Homo sapiens: one gene and its partners. The protein of the gene in region 2 purifies or fractionates together with the protein of the main gene of each other region. This does not show direct contact. Each region holds a gene or a part of one and is shown on either strand. Other genes may lie near its edges. The genes, in order: VPS41, STX17 and VPS39.

The links.
Region 1: the proteins of STX17 (region 2) and VPS41 purify together in Homo sapiens (affinity purification with western blotting; 2 studies listed by BioGRID and IntAct, with this or other methods). This does not show direct contact.
Region 3: the proteins of STX17 (region 2) and VPS39 purify together in Homo sapiens (affinity purification with western blotting; 2 studies listed by BioGRID and IntAct, with this or other methods). This does not show direct contact.

What each region holds. Positions count from the first base shown.
Region 1 is NC_000007.14:38,895,690-38,906,191, reverse strand, and holds part of VPS41 (vacuolar protein sorting-associated protein 41 homolog), read left to right. Parts: intron 1-8,062; coding exon 8,063-8,101; intron 8,102-10,502. UniProt on the Homo sapiens protein: Plays a role in vesicle-mediated protein trafficking to lysosomal compartments including the endocytic membrane transport and autophagic pathways. Acts as a component of the HOPS endosomal tethering complex.
Region 2 is NC_000009.12:99,957,538-99,968,039, reverse strand, and holds part of STX17 (syntaxin-17), read right to left. Parts: intron 8,124-10,502; coding exon 8,008-8,123; intron 7,936-8,007; coding exon 7,885-7,935; intron 388-7,884; coding exon 301-387; intron 1-300. UniProt on the Homo sapiens protein: SNAREs, soluble N-ethylmaleimide-sensitive factor-attachment protein receptors, are essential proteins for fusion of cellular membranes.
Region 3 is NC_000015.10:42,196,727-42,207,228, forward strand, and holds part of VPS39 (vam6/Vps39-like protein), read right to left. Parts: intron 3,236-10,502; coding exon 3,170-3,235; intron 2,941-3,169; exon of another isoform or gene 2,844-2,940; intron 1-2,843. UniProt on the Homo sapiens protein: Regulator of TGF-beta/activin signaling, inhibiting SMAD3- and activating SMAD2-dependent transcription.

The DNA of each region.
Region 1 (10,502 bases), on a different chromosome or scaffold from region 2:
TTTCACAGTAGGAAGCCATTGAAATCTGATGACGGTAGTAGGGCTTTATTATACCATTTTTTTAAAGCTAAAAGTGTATAAAAATGGAGAAAATAGGGCTGCGTGCGGTGGCTCATGCCTGTAATCCCAGCACTTCGGGAGGCTGAGGCGGGTGGATCACCTGAGGTCAGGAGTTCGAGACCAGACGGGCCAACATGGTGAAACCCCGTCACTACTAAAAATACAAAAAAATTAGTCAGGCATGGTGGTGGGCGCCTGTAATCCCAGCTACTCGGGAGGCTGAGGCAGGAGAATCACTTGAACCCAGGAGGCAGAGGTTGCAGTGAGCCGAGATTGTGCCATTGCACTCCAGCCTGGGTGACAAGAGGGAGACTCCATCTCAAAAACAAACAACAACAACAAAAAAACCCCCAAAAATGGAGAAAATAACTGTTCTATTGAACTTTTTAGAAAACTTGGCATACATTTTTTTCTTGGTATCATGTATCATAAATGCCAGTAATCTCCAGGATTAGCAACACAAAACTAAATGTCTCCACATTATCTTTCGTGAGTGTTGTTTCTTTGGTGATTGCTCCCCTCCCCATTTATTTTCAGAAGAACCAAAATAGTGACATCTGCACTGAGTTATTGTGGTATAAAACAGCTCAGAGGATCTGAAACTAAAACCACTTTTTAGGTATGAATGAAAATTTTTTTATAAGTCACTGGGAAATTCTTGCTTTTGCCTAATATGGTAAAGGTAGTTGTCAAAAGTAACTACATATATATTTTATAGTTTACAGAAAAAATGAATACCCTGCATTCTGCCTGGAAATCTTCTAACCAGCAGTTTTGCTTAGCTCCAAAACGATTTATAGTTGACCTTCATATTCACAGATGCCCAACAGTATTTGTCCATATCTTTCTTATGAATAACATTCTGCTTGAAGTCTGGTTGTTTGTGTATTTGTCTTATCTCTCCTAGAGATTGCTGAGTCCTCAAGAATAAGAACAAGAACTTACTCATGTCTGTATCTTCCACAGGGCTAGTGCTTTATAGGTACTAAGTGTTTAGTAAAGTGTTTAAATGAATTTATTAGGGGGAAAATAGCATTTCAAATTGTCAAATTGTATATTAGTAGGATTTGCGTGAAATTATTTTATCTTACTTGCACCTTTTTTAAGTTATTAATTCAGATGTAATGTGGATTACATCTATACTATAATGTAGGTTACATTCTATACTTTCTTTACTCTTGCCTGCTCCCCAGGTACCCTTTGATCTTCCTAATCAACCAACCTGGACCCTGGTCCATTAAAGTATTTCCACGATTAGACCATCTATTTCTTAATCAAGTAGGAGAGTTTCTACTTTGAATTCTCCTTCTGCATTTTAGAAATTAGGGGAATTCTGTCCTTATTGTAGATCACTTATGGATTATTAGATGTCATATTTGTCATGTATATCCCCATGTGATTATGTTACAATAAAAATCAAATCAATACAAATTTGAGTGCTTCGATTTTCTTGCCTGTAACTGGGAATTTTACTCTCTAAAACTTTTGTGAGTATGAAGTATGTTAAAACTTTTGTGAATATAAAGTATGTTAAAGTGGCTAGGTTGAAATGGTTGTATAAATAAGACAGAGGTTAATCATCGAAACCTGGACTTGGCTTACGTATGCACAATTCTCTTTTCTTACAGTTTGGCTAAGATAGATATTTTAAAGGCAGTGTTACTACTAACTAAAGGAAAAACAAAACCCAAACAAGAAGTTTTAAAAGTATAGAATCAGACAGATTTTAGAGGGTGCACTCTTTCCCATCATGTAACTAAAATGTAGTCACAGATTAGTTTTGCTGGACTAGCGGATTGCTTTGTTAGTTTTTCCACTTATCTTCACCTGAATTGGTCGGCTAGAGGCCACTTCACTAGCTGATTATTAGTAGCCTCCGCCGCGCCCACATTAACACCTTGGAGAGAGGACACTCATCAGATCAGGGGCTTCTGTGTCTCATGCTACTTCCCATTCATGGCTGTGCAGTCCCCTGTTGCCTTTGTTTCTTCTTGATGCCTGGGCCTCCTTATGGTTTTTTTGTTTTTGTTTTTGTTAAAAATGGCTTGTGATTCCAGGCTCTTATTTTAAACCTACTGAATCAGAGTCTGTGCAGATGGAGTGTGTTAGTGGGTATTAGCTAATTCCCCAAACTGAGTTTTGATGATTCTCATGCAAAGGCAGATTTGGGACTGGGTCACCTGGTTACCAAGTTTGCCCTCTTTTCCACGCTGGGGCACACGTCAAGATTTTTCTTCATTTGCAGAATAAGATGAGTGCAGTAGCTGAGCCCAGTAGGCTGAATGGGCTTGGTAACCTGAGTCCTCATCTTTACTACTCAACCAGCCTAGTCCCTGAGTGTCTAAAGCTGGCCACAACTCCTTTGAGGTTTTTTAAATTGAAGCTCTGTGACAACAGGGATATCACATACATACCACACAAAATATTTCCTCCTTCCTGTGCCTATATCAGACAGTGCCTATATCAGAACTCTCTTTCTCATTATGCTCAGCTAGGGCGCATAGTTTGTTGGGAAGACAGAGAAGGTGGCAGTACCTCAGTGAGTGTTCACATGTACCTCCAGGCATAGATGGAGATAGATGATTTCTTGGAGCCTGGTCTCTGCTCTTTTTTTTCCTGCAACACAGACCCAGGTGAGCCCTCCTGCAAAGTTTGGAGTGGCCTTCCTTAGGCCCCAGGCTACCATTTCTCCCCCAAATTCTGTTTTTCTTCCCCAACAGTATGTGGGCACTTACAATTCTGAGGACTTCACAACCCAGGCAAGTCCTGGATCCTCTCTGTCCTGGGCTGACAGTCTTCCTTTTCACCACTCCTGACCTCTGAGGCCAGCTGGGCCAAGCCTTCTCCCAGGCCATTGTCATAGGGTTCTATGCTGATGGGAGGATTAGGGATGGGGGCTGGTTGAAAGCCTGTATGAGAGAAGTCTTCTAGGAGCCCAAGGAATTGTTGGAATTGCTGCATTTGTTGGAAGGTGCTACCTTCCTGCAGTTCCCTTTCTGTAACTGTCCTACAGTTCATAAGCTAATAATTCAGACATGAGTCTGGAGAAAATATGCTTGGTATTGCTCATAAGGGAAAGGCAACATATGGAGGAGGAAGAATTTGTTTTAGATTGGCAGCTTGTCTCATCATCATCACCAGCAACATGTTTTTCCAGTAGGATACTGGGAGACAAAGAAGGCAAAGCCTTTGGGTTTATCCACAGCATATTTAAAATGAGAACTTGTAGGACAAGGCAGTTAATATTAGGTGCTAGCTGAGGGGTACGGGAAGAAACGTAAAAACCAAGCTCTGATATTGAAGAGAGAGTGAATGTCCTCAGGCTGAGTGCCTGGCAACCTCTCCCTGGGGTATCCCTGAGAGACCCACTGAGCCTGTAGAGCATTCCATCAGGATGAGTGCAGGATGGGGCCAGGGGCCTTCTAAATGGAGGGAGTGACATGAGGAAAGTGCAGAGCAGGCAGCACAAACTCAGGCAGGCAGGGGGTGGTGCACATGAGCAGGCGTGCCTTGGTGTCAGAAATTGGGAGTGGTGGGGGTGGTGGAGTGCATTCTGTCCTGGGTGTAACCGCTCAGCTGCAACTGATGGTATGTGGAAGTGTGGATCTTATGTAGACATACAGTCAGGAGTACAGGTTTTTATATGGAAGCTTTTTTAAAAACACCACCTAGGCCAAACAAAACACCTGCAGGCCATATCCAGACCCCAGGCCACTGATTTGCCACTTGTGGCACAGAGATATAAGCAATATCTCGGCGAGGGGTCCTCCAGTGTGGCTGGAGGGTCACAGGTTTGTGGAGAGAGTGGGGAGTGAGGCTAAAGGTCTGTTGGGGGCCAGACTGGGAAGGACTTTGACTACTTTGCTGGGGAATCTGAAAGCTATTCTTCAGGCTGGAGCACTACTGAGGGTTGTTTGAGGAGGGCAGTGGCCGTCTGGTCTGTGCTTTGGGAAGATAATCCTGATGGCAGGTGATGAGTACATTAGAGAGGCCACATGTCAAGGCACAGAAATCACACAGTAAAGCTGTTTGGGTAGGTGGTTGGGCTTAAGGGATTGGTTTGCAAAAGAAAGGTAAAATGAAATGTTTCTGAGTTTAACTGTCAATCCGTTACCCAGAATTGGCTCAGATAGACATTTGTGTCACTGGGTATCTTCCAGCCTATCACTTTTGCTTTGATCAACAGCACTTTATTATAGTAAAATACACATAGCATAAAATTACCATTTTAACCATTAAAAAAGTTGAAAACATTTTTTTTTGTAGAGACAGGATCTTTCTGTGTTGCCCACACTGGTCTCAAATTCCCTGGCCTTAAGCAATCCTCTTGCCTTAGCCTCCCAAAGTGCTGGGATTACAGGTGTGAGCCACCCCCACCTTAACCATTTTTAAGTGTATGATTCAGTGGCATTAAATACACTCACATTGTTGTGCAACCATCACCACTGCTGTAGTTGTGATGTTTGTCCACCTAAAATCTCATGTTCCCCAGTATTAGAGGTGGGAGATCTAATGGGGGCAGATCTCTCACGATGGCTTGGTCCCATCCTTGAAATAGTGAGTTCTCTTTCTATTAGTTCCCAAGAGAGCTGGTTGTTAAAAAGAGCCTGGCACCTCCCCATTGCCCTCTTTTGCTTCCTGTCTTGCCATGTGATCTCTGCATATGCCAGCTACCCTTCAACCTACTGCCATGAGTAGAAGCAGCCTGAGGCCCTCATCAGAAGCAGATGCTGGTGCCGTGCTTCTGGTACAGACTGCAGAACCGTGAGCCAAATAACGCTCTTTTCTTTATAAATTAACCCGCCTTAGTTAGGTATTCCTTTAGAGCAACACAAATGTACTAAGACAACCACTCTGCCTCTCTAGAACTTTTAATCATCACAAACTGAAACTCTGTACCCATTTAACAGTAACTCCCCACTACATCCTCCCTCTGCCTTTGGTAACCTCTGTTTTACTTCTGTGTTATATAAGTGGAATCATGCAATATTTGTCCTTTTGTGTCTTGCTTATTTCACTTTGAAAACAGCATAATTTATAACTTACATTTCAGGATTTGAAGTTAGATTCTTTAAATGAGAGTGTGAAGCTAAAAAAAAAGTTTGAAAACCACTGACTCATTCTCAAATTGTTACCTTTCTCAAAGTTCAGCCTTCTTGGATTTCTTAATGAGGACATTTACTTTACGTCTTCTTTGCCTTTCTCTCTCTAGCATATTAATTAGAGGGCTTGATGAATGAATGAAGCTAAGAAATAACAGACCAGCCTAATTCTTGACATCACTCATGCATTGCTTTGGTAGGATTGTGGAAACAAGTTTTTTTTGAGATCGCCTGTCTGTGTGAGATGTTCGTAGTGGTGCTGAAGGCAAGTCTCAGAGTTTCCTAGAGTAAATGTTCTCCATCAATTCCATAGCCAAAGAAGCTACTCTCAGAGCCCAGTTTTCCCTGAAGATTCAGGTCTCAGATCTTCCTGCCTCACGGTGTCAAATTCTGGCACTGCATGCTTTCTGGTGTGGAGAAAGAGTGTAATTTGATTTTGAGTTTTTGGATTGAAATTGCTGGTTGGAGACTTCTGTTTTTTCTTTTTTAATTTACATACATTTAATGGGTACAGGTGCAATTTTGTTACATATATTGCATAGTGGTGAACTCTGGGATTTTAGTGTCACTGTCACCTGAATAATATATATTGTATCCATTAAATAATTTTCTCATCATCTACCCTTCCCAGTCTCCGTGGTCTGCCATTCTCTACTCTTTGTCCACGTGTACACATTATTTAGCTTCTACTTATAAGTAAGAACATGCATATTTGACTGTTTCTGAGTTGTTTCACTTAAGATAATTTTGTTTTGTTTTGTTTTGTTTTAATCGAGACAGTGTCTTACTCTGTTCCTCAGGCTGGAACGCAGTGACGCAATCACAGCTCACTGCAGCCTTGACCTGCTGGGCTCGAGTGATTCTTCCGGGTTCAAGTGGTCCTCCCAAGTAGCTGGGACTACAGGTGCATGCCACCACACCTAGCTAATTTTCTTTTCATTTTTTCTAGAGATGAGGTTTCACCATGTTGGCCAGTCTGGTCTTGAACTCCTTACCTCAGGTGATCCACCTGCCTCGGCCTCCCAAAATGCTGGGATTACGGGCGTGAGCCACTGTGCCCAGCCCAGATGTTTTTGTTTTAATGAAGAACATAAATGGGGTATTCACCCATTTACCTCATGTGCATACTTGAGTGGATTCTATATGAGGAAAAAAAAATTTCCTTAGGTTTAATGTGATTTTCCTGAAAGAGTACTCAAGTGTCTTTTTAGAACTGTACATACAGGAAATAGGAATCTTAAGTGTGGTTTATTGGCATAGTTATCAAAGCCTTGTATTGCTGATGCTAATAACATAATATTCAGCGACTCACAGAGATGGAAAGGATGTTAGAAGTCATTAAACTCAACCTCTAAGCCTCACTCTTCCAACCCCAGTGGTGTTAGGAAAGTTTATAATGTTGTGGGTGGTGAATGGAACATAATGAGCAGTTTATAATAGATGTTCAGTAAAGAAGTCAGAATAGTGATTGTTAATGTTAAAGTGGACTATGTCCACAAGAGAAGGATCAGTACAGTAAGAGGACTAAAACCAGGAACTGTGATGGTGAGTGCAGAGGAGAAACATTTTAGAAGGTGGAACATGATACATGTCATTAACTCTCTGGACAGCTATCATGTAGTGCAATAATTGTTTTTTTTATGTAGTGCTAAGAACAAAAATGTTACTGTGGATTATTGTAGCTTCAAATGAATAAGAACTTTATGAGACTTGGATTGACATTAAGCTAAACAGGCTGCATTGAGTTACAGAGGAGATTCTAATATTCATTGTGGTTAATGATACAAGTATAATAAAATTCTTAATTACAAGGAACATATCCCCATTTTACCCATGGCCTTTGAAGGCAAGGACTGTGTTGTCCTCCAGGCTGTACTTTGGAAGGTGCCTGCCACCTGTCAGGCTCTTGCTAATTTTTGATGAATGAAATTAAAATGATTTTAAACACTAGATTTACATTTATCCCGCTGTCCAACTTGTATTGAGTAATATATGCATCGATCTTCCTTAAAATGTTCATTTTTTTCTTGAAAATGTATTAGTTATATCTAAAATGTCCTTGCCCCATTTTTTTCTTGTTCTTTGTTTATCTCATGGATTGTTGTAAAGTGCTTACATTCAGTGTCAGCATATTAGTTGTAACCTTTTATTGCTATTGATATCTATAAGTACGTTAAGTAAATCTTCATTTTGCTGACCTCTTTGAGGATGCATGGCATCAGCAGATTCTCTCTTTCACTGGACAGGTGAGAGATTAGCAGGATCAAGTCAATTTTTCCCTTTTTGCTTTGTTTCCTTCAGAGCAGCAAGATTCATTGTCTAGCGAGAGGGAAACTGTGTTAAATGGCAGAATTTGTCTTAGTGGTGATGGTTTAAAGAGTGCATGTAAATTATACAGCTTGTTTACACAGGGTCTGATAGGTACCACTGTAGGAGATTCTTTTAAAAAGCTATTTTAGCAAGACAGTCATTTTAACTCAACCAGATTAATAGCATGATAATTAATAGCACAAGAACTTTTCAGTATAAAAATTGGCTTGTAGATAACATGAGATGGCAGTTTCCTCTTCCCTTCTGAGATTAGTGAGGCTGCTTTGCCAGATGGGTTTCCATTATTAACAAGGGAGAGAGTCTTCCAGGCCCTCAGATGATAAGTTCCTGGGGTAATTTGTTTACCTGTTAACTCTTTGAGGGAGAGCAGCAGGATCTGCCTGCCAGGGTGTGGAGAAGTTGCAGGAGACATGTGAAAGTCAGAGCATGTGGTCCTCTAAAGTATAGTTGTAGATTCTCTTCCAAAAAGGGCAGATGCGTGGTAGTAGGAACATGAGGACTCTTTCCCCTTGCAAATGATTATTCTTTTATCATCTCTTCTGACCATTTTCTTTTTCTATGCTTTATAGGAAACTGGGTCCCTTGAAGAATCTACAGATGAGTCTGAGGTAAGGTGGTGACTCAGGAGCCCTCGGATTTGTAGCTCACCACGTTGTTCTCTTGAGTTGCGCTTCTTTGCTAAATGCAACATTCCCAGGGGCTGAGGGTGTAAAGCAGGGCGATAGGTAACTAAGCCTTGGGGAAGAGCTTTTAATATGCCAGCTATCTTAAAAAAGATTAAATGGATTAGCTTAAAAAATAAGAAAAGGAACAAAAAGTTTTCATCTGAAACAATATTTTAACTTGAAACATGTTGGCAGTTGGAAAATTGATACAAAGTTTTAGAAATTTATCTCAACACTTTAACATCCCCCTCACCTGCTTTTTAAAAATAGCCACTGTAGGTTTTATGATGTTTATTCTTTATTTGTTCTTTTAATGAATGTGACATGTTTGTTGGTATAATTTTTGAATCATTGAAATTGGAGTTTGCTTCTTTTTTTTTTTTTTTTTTGAGACGGAGTCTCGCTCTGTTGCCCAGGCTGGAGTGTAGTGGCTCCATCTCGGCTCACTGCAGGCTCCGTCTCCCAGGTTCACACCATTCTCCTGCCTCAGCCTCCTGAGTAACTGGGACTACAGGCGCCCGCCGCCACGCCCAGCTAATTTTTTGTATTTTTAGTAGAGGCAGGGTTTCACCGTGTTAGCCAGGATGGTCTTGATCTCCTGACCTTGTGATCCACCCGCCTCTGCCTCCCAAAGTGCTGGGATTACAGGCGTGAGCCACCGCGCCCGGCCTGGAGTTTGCTTCTTAAAAAGGGAGCTACTTTAAAAGTTGTTAGGTTATTGTGATAAAGATAGTTTCTTAAGGAGAATAATATATAAGGAAGGAGTTTTTAAAAAATTTATTTTCAAGTCTGCATAAGAAATGTTTAAGCATAATATAAATTTTTTTTTTTTTTTTTTTGAGACAGAGTTTCACTCTTGTCACCTAGGCTAGAGTGCAATGGTGCAGTCTGGGCTCACTATAACCTCTATCTCCTGGGTTCAAGTGATTCTCCAGCCTCAGCCTCCCGAGTAGCTGGGATTACAGGCGCCCACCACCATGCCCAGATAATTTTTGTATTTTTAGTAGAGACAGGGTTTCACCATGTTGGCCAGGCTGCTCTCAAACTCTTGACCTCAGGTGATCCGCCTGCCTTGGCCTCCCAAAGTGCTGGGATTATAGGCATGAGTCACTGCACCTGGCCCAAGCATAATGTAATTGGCTTATCAATTTTATAGATGGACTCATAAGAAGAATTACATTTTTCCTTTTAATATTTCATTTCGCTCAGAGGAATGAAAATGTATCTGTGATAACCTGCTAGAAATACACACTGATATGACTCTAGCCATGATAATCTATTACATTTGGGTTGATACTGCATAAGCTTATGTGAATTTTGTTGCTTTTCCAGGGAAAAGTTGGACTTATGCATATTTCTCTAGAGAACAGATTATATATCAGGGATGTCCAATCTTTTGGCTCCCCGGGTCACATTGGAAGAAGAATTGTCTTGGGCCACACATAAAATACACTAACAATAGCTGATGAGCTAAAAAAAATTGCAGCAGAAAATCAAACAGTGTTTTAAGAAAGTTTATGAATTTGTGTTGAGCTGCATTCAAAGCCATCCTAGGCCATATGTGGCCTGCGGGCCATGGGTTGGACAAGCTTGTTATGTATTATGTCATTGTGTAGTCATGGTTTCTAACATTTTCATTAATAAGGATTTCCATTACTGTGGGGCTTCTGGTAAGGCATTTCTGAGTTTGCTTATAGATAGGGTATATTTGTTAATTTCTCATACAGTATTGAAAAGCATTTTAGGTTACCTTATTTTGGAAATCTCTAATTAACTAAGATTCCAGTGTTCTTAGAATCATTGGTACAGAATCAGACAGTGCTGGAACTCTGTTGAGGAATTTCATTTTGCAGGTGAGGAGGGTGTTGGCAGCCACCTAAATCTAAATCTTTCCACACATGCTCCAAATACTAAACAGCTCAACAAAGAGTAAATAAAAGCACACACAATCTAGGCCTCTAGTATAATTAGCAAATGGGGAGTAATACAAACTTCAGTGCAAGTGGGAAAATAAACATCCAAAGCCAGCAGAGTCGGCTCTGGAGTTGACGCTGGAGCTGACAGTCAGATGGAGACTGGGTAGAAATAAAGAGAGTACAGCTGAGACCCAGCCGAGGCAGAATGCACATAAAAATCATCTTAGTGAGAAGGGGGCCCCATTCTTAGTGGGGAGATCTGAGAACAGATGTGAGACTTGGTGGATTTCGAGAATTTAAAGAAAGGAGCTTGAAAGTGTATAGGGCTTTAGGTGACAAGAGTTGGATGGTGCTGCTTTTGGCAGAGATGGGGGAGGCATCCTTAGCGGCTTGGCAGTGAAAGAAAAGGACAAAGCAGAGGAAATTAA
Region 2 (10,502 bases):
TCCATGTGTGCTGTCACATACTTACACTTTTACCCTCTGCAAATATTCCCTGGTAACACCAAATGCCTTACAGCAGAGCTACAGTTTATTCTCTCTTTGAAGAAATTCCTCTCCTGATAGAATGAATCTTAGAGTAGAATATTACAACATTGATTTCTTACACTACCTATGTGTCATTTCTTCCTTATTTCCTTAATTGCTGGTTCCCTCAACATTGAAGAGAGCAGATCAATTGGGTTAATACTAGAGATTCCTGGGAGCCAGAGTACCATTGATTTGTCAGCAGGAGCAGAATCTTACCTTCCCTAAGTTTTTGGTTCCCTCTTCAACATTCACAGCAGCACTGTTGACATGGTCTGCAATGCTGTCAATCTTCTCCTGCTGAGACTAGATGCAAAGGAATTATGAGTGAGCGGTCCTGCTGGGGAGCAGCAGGGAGCCAACACACACTATTTTAATTCCTGTAATCAGGGCCCTGGGTACTGCAGCCTTGCCATCTTAATAGTGGTTCATTAATAGCATCTGATAAGCCATGTCGAAAGGACAAATTAACTTTCATAAAAAAAAGGGGGGGGTCTTAATTATTAGGTAATAAAAGGGTGGCAACTTTACAGCAAAAAGCATCTCACGCTAAAATTCACTCAAACATACAAACATATTATTCTCCAAATGAATCTACTTTCCAGAAAAAAAAAATCCAAATAAGCATTTACATGTCATGTTGGGTTTGATGGAAAAAAAAAACCCAACAAAATCAAACCCCAAAATACCTCCCTAACTTACCTTCTTTGAGGATTCAGTTTAAATCAGGCACATTTACCTTAGGAGTAAAATGCCCTTGGTCCAATAAATACAAATTGTTATGTTTCAGGAACAAGACTACAATACGGTTTGATCTATTATGAGATCTTTCCATTTGTAATATGCAGTAGGGAACAGTGAATGAAATCACTGTTCTGTGCTTTACACCTGTGTATCTTAATACATTTTAAAATCATGACAGTTTAAAATGTTTCAGATCAAATATATTAATAAAGCATTCTACATAAAATGGCAACACCTGTGCTGGCACAACAGCAACTGTGACTCATGGAATCTCTGGGTAGAAGGAATGTTGAGGTCATCAGGTCAATCTCCTCTCTGATGTGCGAAGCCCTACTGTAACATTCCTGACAAGTGGTTACTGAACCTCTGCTCAGATACCTCCAGTGACACGAACTCATTACTTGCTGTAGGAACACATTCCCATTTTTAATTCAACTTTATTTAGATAGAATTTACATATAACAAGTACTGCTTTTAATGGTATAGTATGATGAAATTTAGCAAATGTATAAACCAACTATCACAAATGTATAAACAACAAATGTATAAGCCAACATATAATCAACCATCACAGTTTACAGACTATTTTGGTTTTGTTTTTTTAATGTGCAGAAAAAAGAGAATCTCTCTTTGATCCTAGATAGATGCCACCTGCAATGAGGGTGAAATAATTCAACTTTAATCCTGAAGTGTTTGATTGCCCTTATATAATTGGCCTATTCATTTATATTGAGGCAGACACATACAACACTTTTCTAATTCCAACCATTATTTCATTTGAAAACATGAAGCCCAAACCACACAGCTACTTTTTCCCCATGTTTGTTTCCTCTTAGCATTACTGATATTACTTCCCTTCTCATACACAAAATATGTCTATCTTCGCCATTGTGGTATCCCTTCATTCCAATATTCTCCACCACTATCTTGACATCTCTAAAACAATGCCTAAGAAAGTCCCTTATCAGTTTTCCTTTGAATGTCTCTGTGAGAGACAACTTTAACAATGGTTCTCAGTCTTCCACCTGGAGGCTTCTTAAAACACAGATTGCTGGGCCTAATCCCCGGAGTTTCTGATCCAGTAGGCCTGGGATGAAGCCTGAGCTAGTAAGCTCCCAGGTGATGCTGATGCTGCCAGTCCACAATTCTCACACTTTAAGAACCACTATTATATGTGCTCAGATCAAGGGCACCACCTTTAGTCAGATAATCTGTGTTCAAATCTCAGCAAACGCCACTATGTGCTCTTAGACAAATTACTCAAGCTCTCTAGGTGTTGGTATTCTCATTTATCAAGTAAGAATAGTGATACTTATACCTTCATAGAGTTGAAGTGGGGATAAAATGTGTTTGCAAAGTGTGAGGGGGGAAAAATAGAAAAATTTATCCTAATTTCCCCAAGGAAGTGTTAACTCTCATCTCTCTATCAAAAAATATATTTAACTTTTTCTTTCGGTGCTTGAAAATTCTAGGACACTAAAACTTCAGGTATCTTTTAGCATTCATTCAATCATTCAATTTTTATTTTCCTCAATAGCAAAACTTATTTAAGTCAGCTTTCTTTTTCTGACCCATAGAAGAAAAAGTTCCAGCACTAATAATATACAACTTGTCTAGATTTCTGACACCCTATCATTGTTTCTATTTAGGACACCCCCAACACTTTCCACTCTTGCCTGAAACAGTCTATGCTAGCAGATAAATCACAGGCTTAAAACTCTACCATCAGCCGTCATATGTTGATGAGTTGAAAGGTAGAGGAAAAATAGTCAGTGTCTCCCTTCCTTCAGCCCCAAAATAATTCCAGCAAGAGGGAGGAGCCTGCCAGGATTATTGCCATTTCTATACCCCAAGTGTAATCGTAAAGCCTCAGGGAAATACTTTCTAATGTTCCTTCCTTTAAAAAGGGTTGGATATTGTACTTCTATGACTTTTTAAAAATTAAAGCAAAATTTTAAAATAATTTAAATATTTTTTCATAAAAATCATTTGGAATAACTGAAGAAGCAACCACAGGCAAAAAACCAATCCTGAGATCACTAATTATTTGAACTACAAAGTTCCCCATCATTGCAATCACCAGCATTTGATGAGGCCCATCCCACCCTGGGGAGTAGCCCACATCTATAAGTATTTATTCATGCCATCAGAAAGCATGCTAAGATATGGGGCTGGGGTGTGGGAATAAGGCAGAGGGCAGACAGCCCCTATCCTGGGATCAATAATCACCCCTCGATTGTGCACGTCTGCCTTTCTCTTGTCCGTATTTTGCTTGGTTTGCAACTTCAAACTTTGCCCATATCTTCAAATTCTGCTTCTTGAGTAAGGAGGACTCACTGACCCCCACAAAGGTTACAGTTAGGCAGCAAACTATTGTCACAGAGTTGTCAATTACCATCAGCAGAATGCCAAACCAGACTCCATACAGAGCTGAATTGGGTCACTACCTGTCCACTATGTCCTTGGCTCTTTTTGTGGGACCAAAAGATACATATACAACCCTGCCCCAGCCTGTGAAATCAAGCTCTAAACATTAATGGTGGTGCAGGAGCCTCCTAACCTCTATCTATCAATCTCCCCTGAGGTTTTGCTTCTGATTTGCTCATGTTTATTTTCATCTGCTTAGGCCTCCCACATTTGACAATCTTCAAATTCCATACCTGCCATTTTATAGTTTGGCACCCCATATATGTTCTCAGCATTCCTTTAACAATGAGCTAAACCATATTTAAGTGTTTAGCTCATTACACTGCAGTGTTTCTCAAGCTAGAGTAATATACTGACCTCCTTTTACAGAAAAAGAAAATTCTCAAATGACTCTAAGAATATGTCTACGGATTTCATTTTAAAGAACATTGAATTAAGTCCCCCTATTGGCCTGAACATAACAAATCTTGACGAACAGCTATAGGAGTACCTAAGTTTCTGTATAAACTGTGATTTATTATACTTGTCAAGCAGAATGCAATTTGGGAATATAAATTCAAAACCAATGAACTGTTTTGTTCTTGAATGCCTGTTGGGGACACTTGTAGGCCTAGCATCCTCTATGTCAAGCAATAATAATACATTCAAAAATTAACCCCCAAATCCATTTATATCATTAACAGTGGTCTTCCATAGAGAGTTCTGATAGTAGTTGTAAAGTTTAAGGTTCTTGGAAAGCTACGAGTTTATTTAAGAGGGTAATACCAAAACTCCAGGTACGTCCATTTATTCCTCTCTAAATTCCAGCCAGCCTTCAAGGCCAAGTTCTAATCTTAGATCTTGACCAATCCTGTTCACATTGAGCTATTCTGGTTCTAAACTCCTATGATATATTCTATATACTCCTTAATCATATGCAATCATATACACAAAAAGGCCCAGAAACAAACTTATAAATACTATGATATATAGGCAAAATAAGTGATTATATTGGCTTCGAGTAAGCAATAAGCAGAGTAGATAAGTAGGATGTTGCTAACAGAGGATTCAGCAGTTGGAAAGGGACTGAAGGAATTCCAGTACTAAAATGCCTAAGGATAATAGTGGTGGAAAAAGTAGAATTTTTGCAAGGAGCCAAACAAGGAATGAAAATAAAGGAAGGACAAAAGTGGGAATGCAGTTGGGGTCAGTGGAAGGGAACAGAATGGGAAGTACTTAATAATACACATTACCTCATTTAGTCCTCCCATCAGTGTTATAAAGCTCATTGTTGTCAAATAACATCCTGAAGGTCACATAGGTAATAAATGAAGGAATCTGATCTAATCCATTGCAACCAGTTTTTATGTTTCCAGAGTAAAACTGGATTACAAAAACGACAGGGAATAAGGCAAAAGGCAGAAGTCAAAACAGACTAGCAGCAAGGGTGAGTTGTTACTGAACTACTGGCCCAGGGTTCTTTAAATTCTCCTTGACTAGAAATAGGGCTAGTTACAAAGTTATAGGGAGAGAAGAGGGCACTTGAACAACAAAGGCTGAAGAAAAATAGAGCAGGGTACCTAGTAGATATTAATTTATTAACATTTATTGTACTATACCTTGATCTGTCAATGGCTTTGTAAGTTCTTTTTATAGTGGTAAAATAAATATAACATAAATTTACCATTTTAACCATTTTGAAGTGTACAATTTAGTGGCAATAAGTAACTTCACAATATTGTGCAACCACTATTACTATCTTGTAAGTTTTTTAAATGCTTTTTTCTATTCCTCATTAAGCTTAGCACAGTGCTACGCAGATAGAAAGTGTTCCTTAAATACATGGTTAATTTGTCTAGACACTATCATGTCCATGTGATGATAATGAGAGGATGTGGTCACTCTGGTTATGTTCCTAGGTCATTCTGTGCCTAAATAGAGCTTCTGTGAATCCTTGGCCATGTGGTCATGAGAACTTAGTCACCCTGGGAATAATAATCAGGGGTTCTCCTTTGAGCTTTTGCTTATTAGCATTCTGTCTCATGTACTTAAACAGATTATTACAAACAGGACATTTGTATAGAGCTGTGGCTACAGCCAGAGTTTTCCTACACAAATCTCCCTTAGATTAGAGGTTATGAGCTGCTTACATAATATAATCAAACATGTAACTATCTTATGGTCACAGACCTTTAATATTTCTTTTATGTGCCTATCCCAGTAGAAAAGAAATGTGTTTGTACTGAGTAAGAACTTTGTACATGTGTAGTTTGTTTTTTAAAATCAGCTTTATTGAGGTATAATTTACATATATTAAAACACATTTTATGTGTACAGACCAATGACTTTTGGCAAGTGTATATATTTGTGTAACCATACATGTATAGGTTTTACAAACTGCACTGGATTCAGAGATTATTAGTTTACAATAGTTGAATAAATGTTGATTCTGAAACAACAGATATTTTGGGATTCTTGTTCTATTATTTCCTTCTGTTTGCGAGTATATTAATATTGTACAGATACCTAATCCAGAAACTTCAAATATTTTGCTTCTTCTAACTTAGAGGCATCCAGAAGCAATTCAAACAATTTACTGCATTCAATTTTAGGTAACACATTTCAAGAAAATATTCAGAATATGGAACATAAGCATAGTAAGAAGCCAGTATTGAGAAGCCTAGAAATTATATTGTAGAAGGAATGCAAAAGAAGCAAGGGTTCTGAAGAGAAGAAAATATGGTGGGGTGGGATAGAGTGAGGAAAGATGATGGTTTCAAAACCTTGAAAGACTTTCATATGGAAAGAAGGCAAAATTTGTTCAGTACGTAGCTTTAGAGGCCAAAAATGCCAAAAAGAAGTTATTATAGGGCAGACACTTTTAACTCTAACCCTTCTAAGAGTTAGACCCTCCAAATGCAATAGTTTAAGTATCAATATCCTTGTGCTGTAATTGTTCCAAAAGAGGCTAAAAGACCATTTATTTTAGAAATTGGGGCAAGAGTAGAGGGATTAGATTAGTTGGCCTCTTGAGTCCTTTCTCATTCCAATTCTGATTGTGTGATCTAGGAACTTCTCATTTAAAATTAGATCTCAGGGAAACCGTAACTCAAAGATAACCCCAAAATCATGGTTAGATCAGAAACAAAGAACTAAACCTAGACAGAACTGCAAGCAGAAACAGGTATGCCTGTGTGGACACACATACATAAATATACATACACACGTATTCATACATCCTACCTTCCCATAACTCCTGAGAAAGACAAAAAGAACAATTTAGAAAAATGGTGGAAAATCTATCTTTCCCAACAAATTGACTTTGTGCTTCCTAATCTATGTTAACAGTATCACTGACACCCAATTATGCAGAATAAAGACAATGTTCCTTATCTTTGGCTCCATCTTCCTCCAATTTCTGTTAAGTCCCCCAGAAATATCTCTCAGCTGTCCTTTACCTTTACACTGGTATTGCCATTGCTCCAGGTGAACTCTTGCAATTGATTCCTAACCAGTCTTCCTTTCCATGACCTCCTCCTCTCTTAGGCCATTATTCACAAAGCCAACAGTGATCTTTCTGAAGCACAGACTGAATTGCATGACTCTAACCTGCTCAAGAATCAGTATTAGGCTTTCTAATGCCCACAAAGTAAAGTTCAAATTCTTTAGCATGGCATTCAAAGCCATCACAATCTGGCCCTCACCCTCCTTGCTTGCCCATGGTACCTTATGCTTTGGTTATACTGCAGTACTTGTCAATCTGGAACAGGCCATACACTTCTCTACTCCATGTCTTTGTTCAGCTTCTCAAATATACTCCATAACTTCCCCCAGTGGATATTTACTCATTTTTCAAGGCTCATACAAATACTGTCTACCTGTGTGAAGCTATCCTTAATGCTTCTTTCTACCTTATGACTCCTGCCTCCTTCCTTTGGAATTAAATGCTTTTCCTTGGAGCTGATAATACCTCTCTTCATTCTTGCTTTTGCATTTAGCCATCATGCTTGAAAGCTCAGTTTCTGGGGTCCAGGCCTATCTCCACTCACTGTAGAATGCTCAAAGGCAGCAGGGCGTGGTGGCTCATGCCTGTAATCCCAGAACTTTGGGAGGCTGAGGCGGGTGGATCATGAGGTCAGGAGTTTGAGACCAGCCTGACCAACATGGTGAAACCCCGTCTTCACTAAAAATACAAAAACTAGCTGGGCATGGTGGCACGTGCCTGTAATCCCAGCTACTCAGGAGGCTGAGGGAGGCAAATCGCTTGAATCTGGGAGGCGGAGGTTGCAGTGAGCCAAGACTGTGCCACTGCATTCCAGCCTGGGCGACAGAGTGAGACTCCGTCTCAAAAAAAAAAAACACAAAAAACAAGAATCTTCAAAGGCAGAGAATGGGCTTCATTTATTTCTATATCCAACCTGACCACACTCTCAATGTTAAGCATCTAACACACTGCTTGTATATAACAAGTGCTTAATAAAAGTTTCTTGAATTAATCTGGAATTTGAGAACAGTTAAACTTCTATCTATGGCTTAATACCAGTCTTAAAAATTATAAGTTCTATTAAAATTCTAATTAAAAGCCTAGTGATTATAAAAGCTTCTCATTCTAATAATCCAACAATTCTGCATCCAAAACAGTTATATACTTACATTCACTAGGAGAGAGAAGTCAGTGACCAGTTGGCTAAGTTCAATTAAGTCCTTTAAAAGAAAGGGAGAGGAAGTTACTTTTATGCCTCACAACTACCAAAAAGAAAACATTTTTTAACATACCGCTTCTAAGGTTTCCCACGATTCTGCAGCATTTTGATCTTGAGGAATTTCAGGTAAGGCATATATCTGAGTCAAACTCTGAGAACTAGCTTCAGCTTCAGTAGTATGAAATGCTCCTGGATGAACATAATAACCCCATGTTTAGAGTTTATTTGCTTTGTTAGAAAAGAGACAGCATAAATTGATTTCATAAAACAAATGCCACGTTAAATGGTGTCTAATTAAATTTAGGCTAAAAGGAAATTGATTATTCTACAAAAATAGAATTGTTTGGCTGGGTGCAGTGGCTCACACCTATAATCTCAGCACTTTGGCAGGCTGAGGCGGGAGGACTGCCTGGGCCCAGGAGTTCAAGACCCGTCTGGGCAACAGAGTGAGACCTCGTCTCTACAAAGAAATTAAAAAGTTAGCCAGGTGTAGTGGCACACACCTGTAGTCCCAGCTACTTGGGAGGCTGAGGTGGGGGGATCACTTCAGCCTGGGAGGTCGAGGTTGCAGTGAGCAGTGATCACGCCGCTGCACTCCAGCCTAGGTGAACAGAGCAAGATCCTGCCTCAAAAAAAAAAAAAAAAAAAAGATTTATCCATAGGGTAGCTTGTTCCCCAGATTAGTTAACACATTTTTTTTTTCTAAAATTTTTTTTTTTGTTTTTAATTGACACACAGTCTTGCTATGTTGCCCAGGCTGGTCTTGAACTCCCGGCCTCAACTGATCCTCCTGCCTCAGCTTCCCAAAATGCTAGAATTACAGGCGTAAGCCATGACACCAAGCTTACACACATATTTTTTTAATCTACACAGTCATTTAAAAAATGGCTACAAATACTATCTATCCAATCTGAATAACTAGGGCTAAATGTGGAAGAAGCACCAAAAGAAAACTATTCTACTTGGCCAATGTTCCAAGGAGACGTACCTATATAAATAGGTTTAATATTTTTCATCCTTAAACTTCTATTTGGCTATTTCAATGTAAATACCAGATACAGAAGGTGTTGAAAGCAGGGAAGTAATATATTTTTATTAATGATAATCAGTCACTATTGGTAATAATAAGATTGTCACCAAACATTACCATATGTGTCTTTTTTGTCACTACTCTTCTCCTCAATCTTCTGGCCCATGACTCCATTGCTTCTACTTCTTTTGAGTTTTAAAAAGTTGTCAACCCAGTAGGACTTTCCCCATTAAACACTGCTATGATGATGAATTAATTCACACTTTAAAATCTACCTTCAAGTCTTTATTTCCTCATATTGGTTTTACCAATCATTCATTCATTGAGTTGACATTTATTAAATGCCTACTACCTGCTGATCAGTGTGCTGAGGTGCTGCAGACACAATGGCAAACCATAAAAACAGTTCGGAGGAGGCAACATAGTGTAGTGGTTAGGAGCCTGGGCCTAGTCAGAAAGACTTGGGTTAGAATTCTGATTTGGCTATTTATAAACTGTTTGCCTTGGGTATTTCATCTCTTTGGCTGGTTTTTCTCATTTGTAAAATAAGGTGATATTTACTTTGCACAGTACCTGGGTTATATATAAAGTACAAGTGCTCAATAAATTAGTTACTGCTGCTGCTATTGTTAACAGATCTTACCATAAAATGCATGATACAGACATATTAATAGTCAAGTTCAGTCAGTATAGTCTAATAAGAACTGTAATACTGGTAAGTATAGAGTGCTACACGGGCACAGATGAGAGGTATTTAACCTAGACTTGTGGAAGGGAGAGTGGTCAGAGAAGGCTCTGAAGCTGAAGCCTGAGGGTGAACAGAAATTACTACACAGGTGAACTGGTGCAGGGGTGGAAGGAGAAGCAAAGAGTATTCAGGTCAGAGAGAACAGTATGTGCATACGCTTAGGGACTGAAAAATGTTCAGTATAGCTGACTGTGATGAGGAGAAAAGCAAAGTCTAAGGCTGGAAATCTACTTTGAGATTATTCATGGCATTTGTAAACTATGTTAAACAGTTTTGCTTTTCACAAAAGATCAATATGTTACTATTAAAAATAGTTGGAGACTACTGGGAAGGTGCCATAATCAGATTTTAGATTTACAGAGAAAACTATAGCCACCGTGTAAGAAACACATTAAGGATGCAGTTGGAAGGTGACAAAATTAGAGAGTAAAAAAACCACCTGAGCTCAGGAGTTCGAGATCAGCCTGGGCAACACGGCGAAACCCCATCTCTACTAAAACACAAAAAATTAGCCGGCATGGTGGCACACACCTGTAATCCCAGCTACTCAGGAGGCTGAGGCAGAAGAATTACTAGAACCTGGGAGGCAGAGGTTGCAGTGAGCCAAGATCACTCCACTGACTCCAGCCTGGGCAACAGAGCGAGACCCTGTCTCAAAAAAAAAAAAAAAACAAAAACAATAACATAAAAACAAAAACAAAAAAACAGTCTGAAGGCTTTCCAATATATCCAGTGTAACATGACGGTGATCTGCTGTAGGATAGTTACAGTAGAAATGGAAACAAAAGAT
Region 3 (10,502 bases), on a different chromosome or scaffold from region 2:
GACTGTAAACTAGTTCAACCATTGTGGAAGACAGTGTGGCAATTCCTCAAGGATCTAGAACTAGAAATACCAGTTGACCCAGCCATCCCATTACTGAGTATATACCCAAAGGATTATAGATCATGCTAGTATAAAGACACATGCACACGTATGTTTAATGCAGCACTGTTCACAAGAGCAAAGACTTGGAACCAACCCAAATGTCCATCAATGATAGACTGGATTAAGAAAATGTGGCACATATACACCATGGAATACTATGCAGCCATAAAAAAGGATGAGTTCATGTCCTTTGTAGGGACATGGATGAAGCTGGAAACCATCATTCTCAGCAAACTATTGCAAGGACAAAAAAACCAAACACTGCATGTTCTCACTCATAGGTGGGAATTGAACAATGAGAACACTTGGACACAGGAAGGGGAACATCACACACTGGGGGCCTGTCGTGGGGTGGGGGGAGGGGGGAGGGAAAGCATTAGGAGATATACCTAACGTAAATGACGAGTTAATGGGTGCAGCACACCAACATGGCACATGTATACATATGTAACAAACCTGCACGTTGTGCACTTGTACCCTAGAACTTAAAGTATAATTAAAAAGAGTGGAAAAAAAAACCTAAAAAAAAAAAAAGAAAAAATCTAAGTAATGCTAAAAAAAAAAAGATACAAAAATGGGTTGGGCATAGTGGTGTGTGCCTGTGGTCCCATCTACCTGGGAGGCTGAGGTGGGAGGATGGCTTGAACCCAGGAGGTTGAGGCTGCAGTGAGCCAAGATAGCGCCACTACACTCCAGCCTAGGCGACACAGCAAGACCCTGTCTCAAAAAATAAAGGAGCAGAATGAAGCCTAGAGATGTCTATTGAGGAATGTTTATACTCATATTTTAGAATCAACCAGTTAAAAACACATTTATTGAATAATTACTAGGCTAGACATATCAGAGGATAAAAATGTCACTGGCTCAACTGAGCTCCAGGGAAATGACTCAGATCAGATCAGAGCCTACGATCCCTACCCCTAGTCTTTTCTTGACCCTATTATCCCCTCCCTTTCCTCAGAAAGACAGTCTACCCAAAGACCTATTTAGGCTTGAAATATCTCAAATCTGGAAACCAAATTAACCCTAGAACTAATTCACACGGGCCCAGGTCTATTTCTGGCCCACATCAGGCCAGATCTGGGCCAGAACTAAACTGTTCACCAAGAGTATAGGGAAAAATGGCATTTCTTGAAGAAAAGTTTCAAATCAGAATTTGATTTCCTAATTGTCTATATTTAATCTACCTATGGCGAAACCAAGGCCCAGGAACATTAACTAATTTGTCAAAGGTGACATGATAAAATGATCATAGGGCAAGGAATAGTCGCCACCAGGGTTCCAAGCCAGATTAACACTAATATTACCAGTTCAGGTCTATACTGTGTTGAGACTTCATTTATAAAGTCTTGTTTTCAATTTCTGATCACCACTTACATGTGAAAGCAAAGCAGAGAGTCAAAAAACAATTGTTGAATGCTGAATAAGATAAGCATTTTTAGCTTTAAAATTAAAATGTGAGCTTAATTTTAAAATTATAGACCAGGCAAATATCACAGAACGCAAATATTTTGGCTCCGAGAACTAAAAAAAGAAATTTTTTTTTGAGACAAAGTCTGTTGCTGAGGCTGGAGAGCAATGGTGTGATCATAGCTCACTGCAGCCTCAACCTCCTGGGCTCAAGCGATCCTCTCACCTCAGCCTCCAGAGCAGCTGGAATTATAAGCACGTGCCACCACATCCAGCTAATTTTTTGTAGACAGGGTGTTGCCATGTTGCCCAGGCTGGCCTCGAACTCCTGGCCTCAATCATTCCTCCTACTTCAGTCTCCCAAAGTGCTGGGATTATAGGCATGAGCCACTTCACAGGCCATGAGAATTAAAAATTTAAAACATTAAAACAAAGATCAACAATGTACTGCTCCAGGGCCTAACTGAGGCCTTTGCATGTTTTTGTAAATAAAGTTTTATTGGAACATAGCCATACCTATTCATTACATATTGCCTACAGCTGCTTTCATGTTACAAAGGCAGAGTTAAGTAGTAACAACACTGCAAAGCCTAAAATATTTATTCTTTGGACCTTTTCAGAACAAGTTTGCTGACCCTGATTTAGAGGACAGTTGAAAAACTTAGAAATGAAATAAATTATCTATTTTGTTCTCTGGTTTCTTTTCTTACCCTGCTGCAGAAACTGACCAGGATATCTTCTCTTTCCCGAGTGCACTAGTAAGGTGCTTTTTCCCCCAGTGTTACCCTTGCTCCAGGTTCCACAAGAGAGCTCTATTTATCTTAAGCTATCTCTTAAGCTATTTACCAGAGAAATATATATTATATTGAAGGGTATGAAATTAACTGCAGATTTCTGTAGAGTGGCTCCAGGGCATAATACCTAAACACATCTATTCTCCATAAAGAGAGCACAGAAACGAAAACAAGGAAGGGCAGTGAGGTACTTTCTGCCCCAATAAAAAACACTCTTTAACAGAATACATTTCAAATACTTTAGTTATTACTCTACATTACTGACAGTCACATTTGATTAGAACTTTAGTTTTCACAGTTTCTTCGAGCCTATTATTGCATCCACCCCAACAACTTTGTGGGGCAGAGAGTTTATAGAAAACTGATGTTGGAAAGAACTTGCTCACGGTCACGCAGCCAGGGGGAAGTGCACATGAAGGCAAACCCTGGTCCTCTCTTCTTGTTCTACCCCTCATAAGCCAACAAGATATTTTAAATCGATGTTGCCTAATTTTTTTTCCTACCACCACACCATATATACAGGAAGCTTATGCCCATTAGTAGTATTTCTTATTATTGGTAGTGAGTCTCAAAGAAAAGAGGAGGAAAACAACCACCTCCTCTTTTCTTAGAGACTCACTACCAGTAATAAGTAATTCAGTAATAAGTAAACCAGCAATTCATCCTCACCTCCCAAATGCAGGTAGGGCAATACAATTTGGAGGAGAAAAACCCTAGGCATTCTCAAGTCTTCTCCCCATTTTCCCACCGTGCTCCCTCTAACCTTCAATCTCTCTTTTAATGGTCCAGGAATAACTGATTTCACAGTTGTATACTAGCTGACTATTAAAACTTATTTTTTTGCATGAGCAATGTGCACTTACCAACGTCCTTCCGAATCCTATAGAGAAGAAGATGTCCTTGTTTGGTTCCCACAAGAAGCCATTCCTCTGGAAAAACAAAACAAAACAAAAACAAAAACAAAAAAAAACCAGCTTTGAGAAAGGTCAATCAGCTTGAGTATAACCCTATTTTTTTAGCTGGGGCTTGTAATCAGAAATCAATGTGTCAAGAAAATGAGTTGCTTTTGATAGGAGGTGTTTTGCAAAGCTAAGAAATGTTTATACTCATGTTTGAAAATCAACCATTTAAAAACACATTTATTGAATAATTACTAGGCTAGACATATCAGAGGATAAAAATGTCCTGGCTCAATTGTTTTAATGTTAAACTAATAAAAAAGATAGAAGGGCTTTGTATTTTTAAGATTAAATTATTATGATTTTTATTTTTTGTTATATATACTTTTATTAAGATATATATCTTCAGATATATATTTTTAAATTCTGCTAAAAAGAATATGATGAAAGTTTATAAAATCACAAAATGGAAGTACAAATGTGAAACCAGGTATCCAACCTCAGCAATAATAGCTAAGAGGCATCCTTTAAATGCTTTTACTTTCAGGAAAATAAATGACGTAACATAATAAGCTTACAGAATTCATTATCTCAAAAGATAGTCTAGTAGAAAATATTTAATAACAAGTGTTGATGAGAATATAAAGAAATTAGAATCCTCATACACTGCTGGCAGGAATGTAAAATGGGAGAGCCACTTTGGAAAAGTCTAGCAGCTCCTCAAAAGGCTAAACAGAGTTACCCTGGGACCCAGCAATTCCACTCCTGGTTACACACCCAACAGAAATGAAAACATATTCTACACAAAAACTTGTACACAAATGTTCACAGCAGTATTATCTGTAATAGCTAAAAGATGGAAACAAACCAAATGTCCACCAACTGATGAACGGATAAACAAAATGTGGCATGTCTATATAACGGAATATTAGCTAACAATGAAAAGAAAGGAAGTATGGATATATGCTACAACACAGATGAACCTAAAAACATGATGCTAACTGAAGGAAGCCAGACAAAAGGCCACGTGATTCCATTTATATGAAATGTCCAGAGTAGGCAAATCCACAGAGGTAGAAAGATTAGCGGTTGCCCAGGGCTGGTGGGCTTGGGGGAAAATAGAAAGTAAATACTAATGGGTACTGAGTTTCTTCTGAAAGTGATGAATATGTTCTAAAATTTATTGTGCTGATAGTTGCATAACTCTGTGAATGTACTAAAAACCATTTAATTGTACACTTTTTTTTAACTTTTATTTTTTTAAGATAGGGTTCTACTCTGTTGCCCAGGCTAGAGAGCAGTGGTGTGATCATGGCTCATTGCAGCCTCCACCTCCCTAGCTCAAGTGATCCTCCCACCTCAGCCTCCTGAGTGGCGAGAAATACAGGCATGCACCACCACGTTCAGCTATTTTTTAAAAAATGTTTATAGAGATGAGGGCTCACAATATTGCCCAATCTGGTCTCCAACTCTTGACCGCAAGCAATGCCCCTTCAGCTTCCCAAAGTGTTGGGATTACAGGGGTGAGCGACTGTGCCCAGCCAAATTGTACATTTTAAAAGATGGTCTAGGCTAGTGGTTCTTAAACTTTAGTGTATCACAATTATTTGAGAGTTTGTTAAAATACAGAATGCTAGGCTCTACCCCGGAGCATCTGATTTAGTAGGTTTAAAAGTAGGCCCAGGAATTTTCATTTCTAACAACTTCCCAGATGATGCTGATGCTGGTGGTTCAAGGACCACATTTTGGGAGGCACTGGTCTAGGTAAAAAGAGGCTCAGAAAGAGTTTAAATAATTACCCTGACAGACCCATATTACATCATTCAAGGAAGGTAAGCATGTACAGATACTTCCTTAGCTTTTTGATAACATAAAGGTCACTCATTCCTTTCATAAACTCTCTTGATTCTTGACCTCTGTAAAATAAAATCTTGGATAATGGTACAAATAGATAACTTTTATTGAGCATGTATTGTGTTCCAGGAAATGCTAAACGCATCTGTTATTTCACTAATCCTCACAACTATCCCTTGAAGTAAGTCCTTTTTTCAAATCCCCATTTTATAGATGAGGAAGTTGAGGCCTAGGGAATATATAACTTTTCCAGAGTCACACATGTGGCAAGCAGCAGAGTTGGGATCCCAACCCCAATTTGTCTTGATTCCCAACCACATGCTGTGATGTACTTACTAAGGCACCCATGTCAAAAAAAATGGGTGTCAGCCAAAGGTTGTCTGAATGGCAGTAGTTATATTTATAAAAACAGGTCAGCACCTACATTCCTTATCCAAAGGATCAATAGTATTTCTCCAGGATGATGTTCTTAGTCATCCAGAAAAACAGAGTGATTCTATTTTCTTTGATTTGGGGTCTTAAAGGAAAGGCAGGTCACACACAAAAAAAATGTTGAAATCAGAAATAACAGCAGCTCTAATGAAGGCTGGAGATTTATGCTGCAGCAGAACATGAAAAAATAAAAGAATTCATTTTGCAATATTTGTTTTGTAAAAGATACTATATTTAGAACTTTATAGATATCATGATATCAAGCAATTTAGCAATATTAAAGTTGATTTTTAGGCCACCCACTGATATTTCAGATATAAATAAAATGAAGTGGAAATTTTTTAAAAATCCACTCATAACATACATAAAAATCTACAACCAAAACAAAAGGCCAACATAATGTTCATCATCTTCCCCATCCTTCTCTCTCCACTCTGTCCCCCAAATCCCTGCCAGTTCCTGCTTTTCTTTATCTTTTTTAATAGCCTCAGCTTCCTCCCAAGTCGGCCAGGGTCTATCAATTCTACCTGTAATGGTACCTCATGACAGCCTCCTCCTATAGAGTCTCTCTGGGGACCCCTGTGACACCTTCAACTGGTCTCATTCACTCCATGCATTCTCTCGCATTTGCTGTCAGTTATCTTAGAGCAGATCTCTGATGCTGTCACACTGGGGCTTAAAAAATCCTGTGAAGCTACACTACCAAAATATGAAGTCAAATTCCTAAACATGACATTCAAGAGTCTATTTTCCATTTTTATTGAAATGTTTCTTGCCAATAGATTTTTTAATTTACTTTTTTTTTTTCTTGTGAACCCAAACTAAGACATGACAAAACATTTTAAAAAGTCAAATGTCTAGGGGCCGGGCACGGAGGCCGAAGTGGGCGAATCACTGGAGGTCAGGAGTTTGAGACTAGCCTGGCCAACATGGTGAAACCCCGTCTCTACTAAAAAATATAAAAATTAGGCCGAGTGTGGTTGGCTCATGCCTGTAATCCCAGCACTTTGGAAGGCCAAGGCGGGCAGATCACCTGAGGTCAGGAGTTCAAGACCAGTCTGGCCAACACAGTGGAAACCCATCTCTACTAAAAATACAAAAAAAATTAGCCAGGCATGGTGGTGTGTGTGCCTGTAATCCCAGCTACTCAGGAGACTGAGGCAAGAGAACTGCATGAACCCCGGAGGGAGAGGCTGCAGTGAGCTGAGATCGTACCACTGCACTCCAGCCTGGGTGACGGGGCAGGACTCTGTCTCAAAAAAAAAAAAAAAATTAGCCAGGTGTGCTGGTGAGCACCTGTAATCCCAGGTACTAGGGAGGCTGAGACAGGAGAACCACTTGAACACTGGCGGCGGAGGTTGCAGTGAGTGGAGATTGTGCGCCATTGCACTCCAGCCTGGGTGACAAGTGTGAAATTCTGCCTCCAAAAAAAAAATTAATTAAAAAAATAAAATGTCTATTCTACTGGTCATAAAAGGGAATCAATCCGATGGATTAAATTCTCTGTAAACTTTTAAATCAACCTGATTGATTACATGTGCCATTAGCCAGAGGACCTGTCCCATGTTGGGTCCTCCACTCTCTAGGACACGTTATTTAACAAAGCTGTGCATGCACAACACAGAGGATGACAAGCCTGCAGAGCACGCGCAGCATGGGATGGACAGTGCCTTCTGAGACTCAATACAGTAACACACAACAGAAAGTGAGACATACTAAGCAAACACAAAACGCACACATAAGCAAAGCAGTATCAGCCCTAAAAAACTCCTGACGGCCTAACCCTGAGCCACAAGGTTGGACTTAATTCCTCCTGAGAAGGAGGGCTAGGCCCTATTGCTCATAATTACCCTAATGGAGCTCCTTCCAACAGTGCAATGCAGTCCAACTTCATGTAATAAATTCCATTTCTGGCCCAATGCTGGCCACTGCAGGGACCACAAAGATAAGTAAGATAGTAGTCACTTCCCTTCGTTGGGTAACATGGCAAATAACAGTACTTCTCATCTGGGCATAAGCCCCCAATTAGCTGCATTAGAATCACCTGGACTTATTAAAAATGCACATTCCTGGGCCCTGCACATGGAGATTCAGATTCAATGGCTTTGAAGTGGTACCCTGAAATTTACATTTTAAAATTTAATCTTGTTGGCTGGGCAAAGTGGCTCACGCCTGTAATCCCAGCACTTTGGGAGGCCGAGGTGGGCGGATCACCTCAGGTCAGGCGTTTGAGACCAGCCTGGCCAACATGACGAAACCCCGTCTCTACTAAAACTACAAAAATAAGCCAGGTATGGTGGTGGGTGGCAGTAATCCTAACTACTCGGGAGGCTGAGGCACGACAGTGGCTTGTACCTGGGAGGCAGAGGTTGCAGTGAGCTGAGATTGCACCACTGCACTTCAGCCTGGGCGACAGAGCGAGACTCAGTCTCAAAAAATAATAATGAAATAAAATAAAATAAAATAAAATTAAATTAAATTTTATTTGTTTTTATGAAACATTCATGTAGTTCCAAAGCTAAAACGACGAAAAGTCTAGTTTCTATCATTGTCCATTTTATCCTCTCTTCTCCCTTCTGCTATGGGCATCATTTTAGTAATTTTTGACTTATCTTTCCATTGTTTCTCTGGAAAATATAGGTATGTATGTATATATAGACATACAGATACTCATATATACATGTGAAGTCTGCATTTTTTACAGGCTTTGAATATACATTCAAGTTTGAGAACCAGGCTCTAGAAGCAGACATGATTTACAGGACATGTGACCTTGGAAAAATTTCTTAAATTTTCTAAGCCTTAGGTCTTTCTTCTGTAAAATGGAGTCTTATTTTATAAAAGCCTAATACAGATTAGCATTTAACAACTGCAAGCTATTACTATTCATATTAACATTATTCATTAAATATATATTTAATGAATACCCATTGAGTCAGGAAATGTTTTAGGTACTGCAGATATAGCAATGCAGAAAACAAAGATACTGCCCTGAGGGAACTTATATTCTAATGTGGAGTGAGAGAGGCAATAATAATTAAATATATAAAATAACAGTAGATGGTGACCCATGATTAGAAGATAAGGCTAAGAAAACAGCACATTGGTGGATGTGGCAATCTCTTTTATATAGGATACACAGGGAAGGTTTTGCTGATTTGGGTGACATTTCAGCAGAGAACTGAGTGAAATGAGGAATGAACCATATATACAAAGGCAAGTGAGTGCCAGGCCAAGGAAACAGCAAATGTAAAGGCCCTGAGGTGGGTATGTGCTTTGTGCATTGATGGAACAAAGAAGGCTGTGTGGGACTGGTACCAGAAAGGAGTGAGAGGTAAGTACACAGAAGACAGGGAAGAAATCAGGGCCTGATCATGTCAGATGTTGCCAGACAGGGTGAAAACTTTGGAACTTATTCTAGTTGTGATGTGATACCATGAGAGGGTTTTGAGTAGAGGATGGAATCAGATTTAGGTTTTCAAAGTTTCACTCTACCTGGTAGACAAAAAACTGAAAATGGCACACTGGCAAATATAGGGTGATCAATGAGAAGACTACTACAGTAATTCAGGTGACAGATGATGGTGCCTTCAAGAGTAGTAATCATCAAGATAGAGAGAAATGACTGGATTTCAGATTTATTCTAGGGGTAGAACACACAAGATTTGCTGATAGATGGGATACAGTGTAAAACAGAATGAAAGAAGTCAAGAACGATTCCAAAGCTTTTGGCTTTAGTCAAAGAGGTAAATAGAAATGCCACTTGCTGAGACGTAAGATACAGGAGGACAGGCATGTTTGAGGGGAGAGGAATCAAGAACGGTTTTGGCTATGCTACTGGACATCCAAATGAAGATGCTGAAAAGGCAGCAGGATTATACAACTTTGGAGTTTAGAAAGAAATCATCCTCATCATGTTCTCTCCTGATTTCTATTTCCCAGGAGACAGAGTATGTTGTCTCTAAGACATTTACACCTCAAATACTATTTGGCCCTGTGTGACCTGCCTCTGGAAGTTCCTGGACGAACTTTCCATCCAAAGGCACAATGTAGTTAAAAAGGGGTAATGACTAGAAAGAGCAATAATTACTGCTGCTCAAATCTGGAAATAAAGCACTTTTGAAGCAGGAGGCAGTTAATGGCCTCTTGTAACCTAATATGTACCTAAGCACCTTAGGAACCAAAGAGCATTTCTCCTGTTCGGTGGGTGATCAAGGAAGGCCAAAAGCTACCTATTGTTTCAAAACTGTGTTCCTGAAAACCACAGGTGCAAGGAATCTTTACTGTGACAAAGTGGAGTTGGTGAGAGTCTAGGAGCACTATGTGCTAATGGTCCAACAGGAGATCAGAGTCAAGGATTCTGACGAGCTAAGTCAAGTGTAGCCACAGCTGCATTAATCCCTTTCAGAAACATATGTCCTTAGCTGAGTTGGGTACCCCCTCATCCATGTTGCAATAATAGGCAGCATATGTCTCTAGTATTATAATCTGTTCACGTGTATTTGTCCCCCAGTGTGTGTCCTAGGAGCACAGGCACTGTTTCTTATTCATCATTGTATTACTGTCCCAAGCAAAGAGAATGGCCCGTGTAGCCACCTAATAAGTATATCTGATGAAGCAATGGGGGAATTAATCCTTTCATGCAGTGTCAGGTCTTTCATTTAAAAACTTTTTCTCCTCCTCTATTTAAATGTTTAATGAGAGCATTTAATGACAGAAATTGGTTTTCTTGAGATGTCTGGAGGAAGTAGGATTCTCCTCTTAACCCAAAGGACTAGAACTGCTTACTGTGGAGGTATGATTTTAAAGAGACCCAGAGCTGCTAAAGGAGGAAGGGTGCACATTAACATGAAAATTCTTCGTGAAAGAACCCTACAGAAGAAGTCATCAAGAACTCTGCAAGGATGACTCGGTGACACTGTGAACAGCTGACGCACATGGTATCAGACACCACCAAGATTCCATAAGGCCCATCATGGTTACCTATCTAGCTCAGTATAAGATCTGATTA